Homo sapiens: one gene and its partners. The protein of the gene in region 1 interacts with the protein of each later gene in a biochemical or structural test. Each region holds a gene or a part of one and is shown in the gene's direction. Other genes may lie near its edges.

What was found.
Region 2: the proteins of LRRK1 (region 1) and POLR2M form a complex in vitro, tested with the Homo sapiens proteins (2 studies listed by BioGRID and IntAct, with this or other methods).
Region 3: the proteins of LRRK1 (region 1) and GPBP1L1 form a complex in vitro, tested with the Homo sapiens proteins (2 studies listed by BioGRID and IntAct, with this or other methods).

What each region holds. Positions count from the first base shown.
Region 1 is NC_000015.10:100,925,852-100,929,504, forward strand, and holds part of LRRK1 (leucine-rich repeat serine/threonine-protein kinase 1), read left to right. Parts: intron 1-3,653.
Region 2 is NC_000015.10:57,713,174-57,716,826, forward strand, and holds part of POLR2M (protein GRINL1A), read left to right. Parts: intron 1-1,362; coding exon 1,363-1,506; 3' UTR 1,507-3,653. Other genes in the region: GCOM1 (GRINL1A combined protein), read left to right, coding at 1,363-1,506.
Region 3 is NC_000001.11:45,637,898-45,641,550, reverse strand, and holds part of GPBP1L1 (vasculin-like protein 1), read left to right. Parts: intron 1-1,147; coding exon 1,148-1,341; intron 1,342-3,653. UniProt on the Homo sapiens protein: Possible transcription factor.

The sequences.
Region 1 (3,653 bases):
CATCTGAACCCTGTCTTAATGCTGCAACACTCATTCTTAAATGCTAGGCCACACTATGGGAGGTGAAAGGGTCAACAGGTTGGGTCTGAGAGGCCCACGTTTGTACCCTTAACCGTGTTAACTAACGATCGGCCACTGTACCTGGCTTGGCAGACACTTTGTTCAGTTGTTTGAGTGTTTTCACTCCATCTGAAATGTCCAGCAGCTGACCAGGGTGATGTTTCTGGAAGGTGTCGTTTCACATCCATCACATTATGAAATGGGAAACGAATTTGCTTCTTGACATTGCCCAGCACTAAATCTTTCCAGAGTGTTCAACTTGCATCTTTGTAAATTTTCTTTTTCTTTGTATTAGACGTGTGTCTTTTTTCAGTTGTGTGGTAGGAAGACCTTGCTCTGTTGGTGTGAGATCGAGGTGGCGTGGGTGATAGAACGCAGTCCCCGATTTGGGGGTAGCACCTCCACCTTTCCAGTGCACGTGAGGCTCCCTTATCCTCCTGCTGCTCCTCTTCGCAGCCCTGAGGGACGAGGGTGGGGACAGGGACCTTGGGTCTGTTTGGGGCCTGTAGGGTAGGTGACTGTGTCATCTGAAAAAGCCCACAGGAGGCGCTGCTCCCTCCCCTCCTGGTCAACAGTTGGTGATCTAAAGGAGTGCTTCTCAACCACGGCCCACACAGTCACTGGGTAGTGGCTCAAACCGGCAGGGCCCTGGCACCACCTGGACCCACTGGAGCAGCATCTTGGGGCAGGGGGGCGGGGAGTGAACAAGCATGGGTAATTTTTTCTTTTTCATTTTCTTTCTTTCTTTTCTTTTTCTTTTCTTTTTTTCTTTTTTTTTTTTTTTTTTTTTTGAGACAGTGTCTTGCTCTGTCACCCAGGCTGGAGTGCAGTAGCATGACCTCAGCTCACTGCAACTTCCACCTCCCAGGTTCAAGTGATTCTCCTGCCTCAGCCTCCTGAGTAGCTGGTACTACAGGCGTGCGCCACCACGCCCAGCTAATTTTTGTATTTTTAGTAGAGACGAAGTTTCACCATGTTGGCCAGGCTGGTCTAGAATTCCTGACCTCAAGTGATCCACCCACCTCAGCCTCCCAAAGGGGTGGGATTACAGGTGTGAGCCACGGCGCCCGGCCAGCATGGCTAATTTTTCAAAGTTCCCTAGTGATTCTAACGTGTAGCTAAAGTTGAGAATCAGGCCATCTAAATGGTTTGAGTCCCATAGAGCAGCACTTCTCAAATTATCAGGTGCACATGTCCCCTGGGGATCCTGATGAAATGCAGAATCTCATTCAGGAGGCCTGGGGCACAGACAGCCTGCGTTTCTAGGTCCCCAGGGATCCCCCGTTGATTCTTACAGGTCCCAGGGACCGGGGCGCAATGGGCTTTGGACAAACCCATCCCCACCTCCAAGCTCGTGGCAGGACAGATAACCAGAAAATGTTAAGGTGTTCCGAAAGGCCAAAGTGTGGCACTCCCCAGCCCCCATGATTCTCCCTAAAGGCCTGCATCTGAGCTTGGCACTGCTCCTTAGGAGGTGTCCTCTCCTGACTCTGCTCTGATGGCCTCTTTCCCCAGTGGGATCTCAGGAATCCCTGCTATCCCTGTTCTGTATAACCCAAGGGACACACACAAGGGCCAAGGACCCTGACGTGACCTCAGCAGCCTTCACTGTGTACTGTTCAAGGAGCTTGAAGTAGGGACAGGACAGGGAAGTGACACCCTGGGAACCCCTGAGAATGAGGGAGGTGTTTGTGCAGTGACCTAATACAGAGAACACAGAGTTGAAGAGGAGAGGAAGATAGCCTGAAACACCCCAGAAAGTTCTGTCCCCTGTTTAGCATTAAGAAAATTATGTTACATGTTAATGAATTACAATAATAACCAAATCCTCATAAGGAATCTGGTGAGAAGCTACTAATTTATACCCATACTCAGAGTTTTAAGGTCCCACAGGTGGTACCAGCAGAACTGAGCCTGTGAGCCCCAGCCCTGGAGCTCACTAACAGAAGTTATTAATTCCAGGGACTAAAGCCTACAGTGCTCCCTCTGTAAAGCCCAATTTTAACGCATTGCATGTTGGATTTCATTTTCGCAGAATATATTAATAAATGTGTACACTAAGACTACAGCCAAGGAGCAGGTAATGCTCAAAGGGTGGCGTGTGGCCACGTCTGTGTGCTGGGATTGCAGTCACTGTGCTTTGCTCATCGGTGCTGTTTATGTTTCCTGCAATATCTACACATTGCTTTTTGTTTTGTTTTGCCTTCTTTTGCATCCAGACGAATAATATTGCAAGTTATTTTTAAATTATTGTTTATTTAAGTACTGATGATTTGTGTTTAGAATCTAAACGGTAAACCTCCTGTGCTTACATCCAAAGTTAGATCTGCCTCCACTGGCCTCTTTGCCTTGAAGTCTTTCTGGAATAAATGCGGAATACTTGACTTACTATGACTGCAGCTGATCCCCCCGCAGGACTCACCCTCTGCACATGTCCCCAGAGCCTAAGCTGGATTTGTCCCATCCCACCTTCTCCTAGACTTCCTGGGATGATAGGGAGCCCTGTTTCCCCTCTCCCACCCCCCAAATCCACCAGCCTCACTCAGGGAACACTGTTCAGGCCTAATTTCCAGCTCCGGCTGAGAAAAGTTGGCCGCCAGAAGGAAAACTAACGACACTCAAAATTATGTAGGGACAGCTTTCTCATGCTTTAAAAATCCTTGGAAGATAACGTGATTGAAAACGACGACGTTCTTATTATACTTCCACGTGTGCGTTAGAAAAAGACCCACACTTTAAAAAAGAGTGTCTACTCTTGGGTGTTGGGGTAATGGTATTTTTAATTTTTTATTTGTGTACTAGGCACGCCTTTTCACACCCCCTACCTGTTGTGACTTGCGTGACCTCAGCTCATGTTTGTTTACAATGGTTAATCCTTTCAAAGCCCCTGGATGTGGGGGGCTTTGCCCAGCTGGTGTGAGGCTGGGGTCTGTGTGTGTCTGCCCTGCCGTGCGGCCCGCTGTGTGTTTGTGCAACACAATTGTGTCCCAGGAAGGTGTGTGACAATCTCAACCTCATTAGCACCAGCAGCAGTCAGCTCGCCTGCGGTGCAAGAGGAATGGTTGGAAAGCTTTGATGGGCGTAGAGTTTGCCAGCTGACAGAGCAGCTGTCAATGAGATGCTGGGCATGGGCTGCAGGACGCGCATTACTTTGACAAACATGTCATTAGATGTTCATTCTTCTGAGTATGTCTGACACCAGCCAGAGTGGAAAAACCAGTCCCGCCAGCCAAGGAGAGCTGTCCTGGAAAGTAGAGAAGTCAGGAAACTTCCACATAATTCAGGTGGAGAATACTTGGGAAGACTTCTGGATTGCGGAGGGTGGGTGGAACTTGAGCAGACATCACCCAGGCAGTGGCTCGCCCCCCCAGCTCTCTGTGAGTGGCCGTCGCTTCGGTCCTGAAAGCCCTGCCACAGTCACACACCTCTCAGAGCACTGCCCACCACCGGACCCAGCATGGACCAAAGGAGGAGAAGGAACATTCCAGAAGTTCTTCAAATCCCAGGTTGTTTCATGGCTACTTCCAATGTCTTGTTTTTTTCTCCTTTGGCTTTTGCGAATCTGTATTTGAAATACAACTCCTTAATATAGG
Region 2 (3,653 bases), about 43 Mb from region 1:
GGTGACAGAGTGAGACCCTGTCTCAAAAAAAAAAACAACAAAACAGGCTGTTAATCTGCTTTGGCTTTTCATAAAAGCCTTGGCATGGATTGGCATTATCAAGGTGCTCTTTTTGAAAAAAACCATTTTTCTTTCAGTGCATTAAAATGACTGTCTAGTTATGGCTGTAGCATTGAGGAAGTGTTTACTGTCTCTGAGCTCTTAAATGCCTGTCCTAAGATATTTTTAGGTTGAATTAAACCCTTCATCTTTAAATTGTTTTTTTTTAGCAGAGAAGTTGTAGTGGTAATAGCTCCCACTTTTACTGACCCATATTCATGGCTTGAAGAGGAGGACATCAAGAAGTTCAAGAAAGCATGAGAAAAGGGAAGAACTGAATTAGGAATGACATTGCCACCTACCATCAGTTGGTGGTAAAGTCCTTGGGAGTTTTTAAGTACATTGCCAGTGTCTGAAATTTACTTGGACTTTTTATTGGATACTAGTTGCTGTAGGACTTTATTTGGAGAGGAATAGTCAGCTTTTTAGTATTAATTTCTTGATTTTCATTTTGCCATTGAAATGTAATTCCCAAGTCTGGAAGTCATGATTGTAATTAGGGAAGAAGGTCCTGTCAGTTGTAGAAATCTAGACAGCATTAGTCCTTCTTTTTTTTTTTTTTTTTTTTTTTTTTTTTTTTTTTTTTTGAGACGGAGTCTTGTTCTGTCACCCAGGCTGGAGTTCAGTGGCGCAGTCTCAGCTCACTGCAAGCTCCGCCTCCCGGGTTCACGCCATTCTTGTTCATTCTTGTGAACCCGGGAACACGCCGGGTTCACAGGCACCCGCCACCACGCCCGGCTAATTTTTTGTATATTTAGTAGAGACGGGGATTCATCGTGTTAGCCAGGATGGTCTCGATCTCCTGACCTCGTGATCCGCCTGCCTCAGCTTCCCAAAGTGCTGGGATTACAGGCGTGAGCCACTGCACCGGGCCCCAGCATTAGTCATTTTTGACATTTGATAGGTCAAATTGTTATGTGAGTGTGTATACATGTGCATGTGCCCCCATATTTAACGCATCTGTATTTATAAGTATTGTAGTGCTAAGCTCATTACTCAGTTTCTTATATAGAGGAGTGTATTTCAGTGCAATGTTGTATATTAATGGAGGTCAGTAACTTCAACTGTAGCAGGCTGGTGGCTGTCAGAAGCATTACCCAGTTGTGTCTGATAGGGCACAGCCATCAGGCTTGTATTGCCCAAGGGAGCACTCAGTGAGGTGTCAGTGTCCCTCTTATTGCTGATTCTAGGTAACTTCCCATTGAAAAATTGTAAGGAAGAGATGTGAACGTGTAACTTTGTGCTTTGCTCTTTGTTTTAAAGGAGATGCAAGCAAAGCTCGCAGCGCAAAAATTAGCTGAAAGACTGAATATTAAAATGCGGAGTTATAATCCAGAAGGGGAGTCTTCAGGGAGATACCGAGAAGTAAGGGATGAAGATGACGATTGGTCCTCTGATGAATTCTGAAGATAATCTCCTAAATCACTGACGTTGAGATGTCATCATCTTACATCAGACTTTCTAACTAGTATCAAGATCAGTGTCAGATATTGTTGAGGGAAGTAATTTTATAAAGTTACACAAAGGTAGTTATAAAAAAAGCCCAGTTTGTCTTTCAGAAGGTGACTTTCATGTGCTTGAAAAGTTTAATATTTGAATATTGTGTTTAACCACATGGTATTAAAATTTTGCAATATATTGTGTATTGGTCTGATATTTTAGTATATAGTAGAACATACTTTTTTTTTCTTTAAGCCAAATGAAAAGAGGTAACTTTGCTTTTTTCCTTTTTCTTACCTATCAAATAGCATTTATTACATGTCTTTCAGTGAAATACTTAGTTGTTCCAGGCACCTAAAATCAATTAGGAAGACATAGTTCCCTTCTTTTTTGGGTAATGAAGGGAGCAGTCTAAAGAATTGTATGCATGTTTGCATGGGGTTATTGAGACATTGGATGTGAAATACCTAGGAAGACATGTATGGAGAATGCTTAACAAATGCTCTTCTCCTTTTTCTGTCTTCCCTTAGGAAGAACGTTATCTCTCTTCTGATTAGGAAGGACTTCCCTTTTGAGTAGATGCTGGAAAGTGGAGGTTTTTTTTGTTGGTTTGTTTGTTTGGTTTTGTGTTTTTTTTTGAGATGGGGTCTTGCTCTGTCGCCCAGGCTGGAGTGCAGTGGCAGGATCTCGGCTCACTGCAATCTAGGTGGAGGTCTTTTTAAATAACCTCATGTTACTTCAGGCAAATCTGGTACAGGAGAAGCCCAAGCTAACTGAGCTGGGTGAAGGCTTGTGCATCACCTGGCTTGAGTTCCTTGCTGTCACAGATGATAGGTTCATGTACACAACATTAATGTTTGATAAGGAAAGCATTTTTTTTTTGTTAAAATTGAATTGTCAGTACTTTACTTTTTTCCCCCCAAATAGGTATATATAGACTGCAGAAGCTTCAGTCCCATATATAAACGTTCATGTCATTTTAGAGGATTATATGGTTGTCTCCAGAGAAATTAACTTACATTATCAAAAAATTCTTTGTCTAATATATTGGAGTCTTTAAAAGTGTTGAAGAATAAAATATTAATTAGAACAACTTCAAATGCTAAGGTGATGTTTTACCGGGACTTAATTAAATACAACTTTTTCCTTTCGAAAAAGACTGTTCACATTTGCTTCCAGGTGTAATTATTGCTTTCATTCCTTACCCCCCTCAAGCAAATGTGAAAAGTATACTGACCTAAGATTCTCATTAGTTTTAGTTCTTAAAACGAATAGTAAATGATTTCACAGCGTAAAATTTGATGTTATTTCTGGAAGCTGGATGATATGGAAGAGTTCATGTGCCTGGACACACAGTTCCCTGTAATCCTGCCATCTAGGGAGATAAACTCTGTTAACATTTTGATGTTGTGTTTTTGCTTATTTTTCTATGCATAGTTATGCATTTATATTCTCAAAAATGAAATCATAATGTACATTGCTTTGTAGTCTGCTCTATATATTGTCAATATGTTCCCATATTAAATATTTTGCTTTTTAGACAGCTGTAGGATATTTTATTTCATGGGTATACCATAACTTTAAGATTTATTTCCTATTCAGCAATTTGATTATGTATTATAATGTAATCTGTAAATAGTGATATGATTAACATCTTAATCACATCCATAGAAAATGACTTATTTCCAGAAGATACCGCTCTAAAAATGAAATTGTTAGGTGAAAGTGTTTTTGAGAATTTTTATATATATTACTCACTGCAGAGATCATGTTCATTTACATTCCCATTAGCAATATATCCAATGCTCAGAATTGAAAATTACTACTTAAAATCTTTGCAAATTGAATAATTACAGAAAAGGGCTACATTTAAAATTTGTATTTGTTTTTCTTACTTAGTGAAGGTTGTGTTTTTTTTCATATTCATTGGCCATGCTATATTCATTCTTTTGAGAATTGCTCATTCATATTTTTTCTGTTGCTTGCTTGGAGAATTTGCTCTTTTTTTGGCATATAAGTTCTTAAGAATGTCCGTCCTTTGTCATATATTGTAACTTTTTTTAGCCTTATTTGTCATTTAACATAGTTTGTGGTATTTCAGTATAGAAGTTGTT
Region 3 (3,653 bases), on another chromosome or scaffold:
CACCATACCCAGCCCATAACAATATATTCTTAAACATTCATATATATGTATGTTTAAATATTCGTGTGTGTGTGTGTGTGTGTGTGTGTTTATGTGTATGTGTGTGTATATATATGTTTGTGGTTTTTTGTTTTGTTTTGTTTTGTTTTTTGAGACAGAATCTCACTCTGTCGCCCAGGCTAGAGTGCAGTGGTGCGATAGGAATCTGTATTTCAAACCAAACCTCATCTGTGGCATTGGGATCTTTGGCATTTACAAATTGGACTCTCCTGGTTTCTTCATTAGACATGTTGATAGCCAAGAACATGGGAAGTCTTTAACATATCTAAATGATGGGTTTAGAATCCAGTATTGTAGGATTAAGATTGATCGATGTACCTTCTCCTCTTTGCTAATGGTGTATACCTTTGCTCCAGTTTGCCTCATCAGAGGGTTTCATGGCAGACTCCAATCCCTGATTACCTCATCTCTCTATTCTCATGCTGACAGGAGCTGCTACTTTTAGGTGTTTTTTTTTGTTTTGTTTTTGTTTTTTTGAGTTAGGGTCTGACTTTGTCATCCATGCTGGAGTGCAGTGGCACAGTCATGGCTCGCTGCAGCCTCGACCTGGGCTCAAGTGATTCTCCCGCCTCAGCCTCCTAAGTAGCTGGGACCACAGGTGTGCACCACCATGCCTGGCTAATGTTTGTATTTTTTGTAAAGATGGGGATTTGCCACAGGGTTTGCCAGCCCAGGCTGGTCTCGAACTCTTGGGACTCAAGTGATCTGCCCACCTCAGCACCTCCAAGTGCTGAGATTACAGGCATGAGCCACAGTGCCTGGCGCTTGGATTTATTCTTGTTGGGTTCATGCTTAACTGATCACACTGTCCATCAGACATATTGTGCCCCTGAAGGACTGCTAACATCTTTGGACTTCCTGGCTGATTTATAAATTTAGTATCCAGTTCCTCATATGCTGCATTTTTTTGTACAGTTCCTGAGTAGTCTCACTTTTGAGAGTATCTATTAAGTGCATACCAGGGAATGTTTAATCCCTCTGTCTCAACTGTCAGCTGTTTTGTTGACTAAGGCCTTTGTATAAACTATGCTTCATGTTACACAACAGGTTTGACATTCTGTTGTCTCTCCACTCTTGTACTTCACAGAAAACCCGCCTAGTGCCAAGCAACCCTCCAAGATGCTAGTTATCAAAAAAGTTTCCAAAGAGGATCCTGCTGCTGCCTTCTCTGCTGCATTCACCTCACCAGGATCTCACCATGCAAATGGGAACAAATTGTCATCCGTGGTTCCAAGTGTCTATAAGAACCTGGTTCCTAAGCCTGTACCACCTCCTTCCAAGGTATGATTTAGAATCAGGGCAAGAACCTTATACAAGAGAGGTTTGGGAATAAATCAGGAAAAAATTAATAAATTTGTTTTTTCTTGCCGCATCAGTCACCAGATATTCTTTCAGTACCTGTTATATGTATACAGCTTTCTTTGCTTTTTTTTTTTTCTTTTTCTTTATTTTTTTGAGACAAGGTCTCACTCTGTCACCCAGGCTGGAATGCAGTGGCACAATCATGGCTCAGTGTGACCTCAGCCTCCCAAGTAGCTGAAACTACAGGGGCACGCCATTATGCCCGGCTATTTTTTTTATTTATTTTATTTTTTGTTTTGTTTTGTTTTTTTGAGATGGAGCCTCGCTCTGTCACCCAGGCTGGAGTGCAGTGGCACGATCTCAGCTCACTGCAAGCTCCACCTCCTGGGTTCACACCATTCTTCCTCAGCCTCCCGAGTAGCTGGGACTACAGGCGCCCGCCACCACACCCGGCTCGGTGTTTTTTTGTATTTTTAGTAGAGACGGGGTTTCACCGTTGTTAGCCAGGATGGTCTCAATCTCCTGACCTCGTGATCCGCCCGCCTCGGCCTCCCAAGGTGCTGGGATTACAGGCGTGAGCCGCCACGCCCAGCCATTTTTTTTTTTTTTTTTTTAATTATTTTTTGTAGAGACAGAATCTCATTTTGTTGCCCAGGCTGGTCTCTATCTCCTGGCCTCAAGGAATCCTCCTGCCTCAGCCTCCCAGAGCGCTGAGATTATGGGCGTGAGCCACCACACCTGGCCCCTCTGGTTTTCTGTAATAGCAACAACATCCTAATCACTCAGCTTGACTATCTTGGCTACTTCTCTTCTCTTCCTCCTTAGTCATTCTCCTCAGCCAAGGAATTACAAAGTCCCTGTTATTCTCTCTATGCTGTCCTTGTTCAGGACTTTGTCTTCTCACATTTACTGTTCTAGTATACCTTTCTATTTTCTCATGTCTCTGTGTCCTACAGAACTGCCAGAATGATCATTCCAAAAACAATTGAATATATCACATGCCTTCCTGAATTCCTTCAGTGGCTCCAAACAATGTATGGCAGGGATTGGTAATTTTTTTCTATGAAGGGCCAGATAATAAATATTTTAGGCTTTGCTTGATATATATGATTTTTGTTACACATTGCCTTTTTTTTTTCCAGCTCTTTAAAAATGTAAAAATAAGTATGAGCTCATGAATCATACAGAAATGCCTTGGTCAAGATTTGGCCCATGGGTCATAGTGTGCTAGTCCTATAGTCAGTGTGCAGAGTAAGCAGAGGTCTGTGAAGTTTCTCATAGCCAAACTCTAATCCATCTTTTGCATCTTATTGCCCCTTTTTTCTCTTACCCGGGAAGAAATTATTCTTCTGGCGCATGCCATCCTCTCTGTGAATAATTTTCTTTCTTTTCTTTCATCTATTTATTTAAAATAGTGATTGGGGTCTCACTATATTGCCCAGGCTGGTCTCGAACTTCTGGGCTCAAGCCATCCTCCCACCTTGACCTCACAAAGTGCTAGGATTACAGACGTGAGCCACCGTGCTCACCCTCTGAATAAATTCACTGGGAGTTACTATCCTAGTGATAATGATTGGAGTTTTCAAGGTAGATTAGATATACAAGAGAAGAGGATGGAAGAAGAGAAGAGGATAGAAGAGGAGTAAAGAATGGGATAGTACTGAGAAACTAGTTCAGAAAAAAATGGTAAACTCTCACAGAAATACAAGTGGGTGAGTTTGCAATAGCAACAGGGGTAACAAGTTGAGGAAAATAACTGAGAAAAAACCTTAGTGATTATCTTAGGAGACTTTTGAGTTGATGTTTTTAGGGAATAAAGTAGGGCTGAAACAGTATTTCAAGGGCTTTTGGAAATATGTGGAGGTAGTGGCACCTTTTAACCTTGACAGTAAAAGGAACTAGATAGAATATAGGCAGTGGAAAAGATAAGTGAATGGATGAGGAAGTCTGTTGGAAGAAGCCACTGGAAGCAACTTGAACTGTACTTGGAAGAGATCATTAAAGGATTATGGGCCAAGAAGAAATATGTGGGAATAAAACTAATTGACAAGTACAGTTATCTTTGAAAAGGGTTTAGGATACTTAGGGTTTATTTTCCTCTGATGTAGAAGGGAAAGAATGTGAATTCAAGTGAAGAGAGCAACTATTACAAAGAAACAGCTGAGCATGGAAGTTAACTGCCGGGCTATGGAATAGACAGATTTCACCTTACACCTTCTTCATCTTACGTCCTTGAGCAAGTTTCTTCACTTCCCAGTCTCAGTTTCTTCTTCTATAAAATAGACATAACA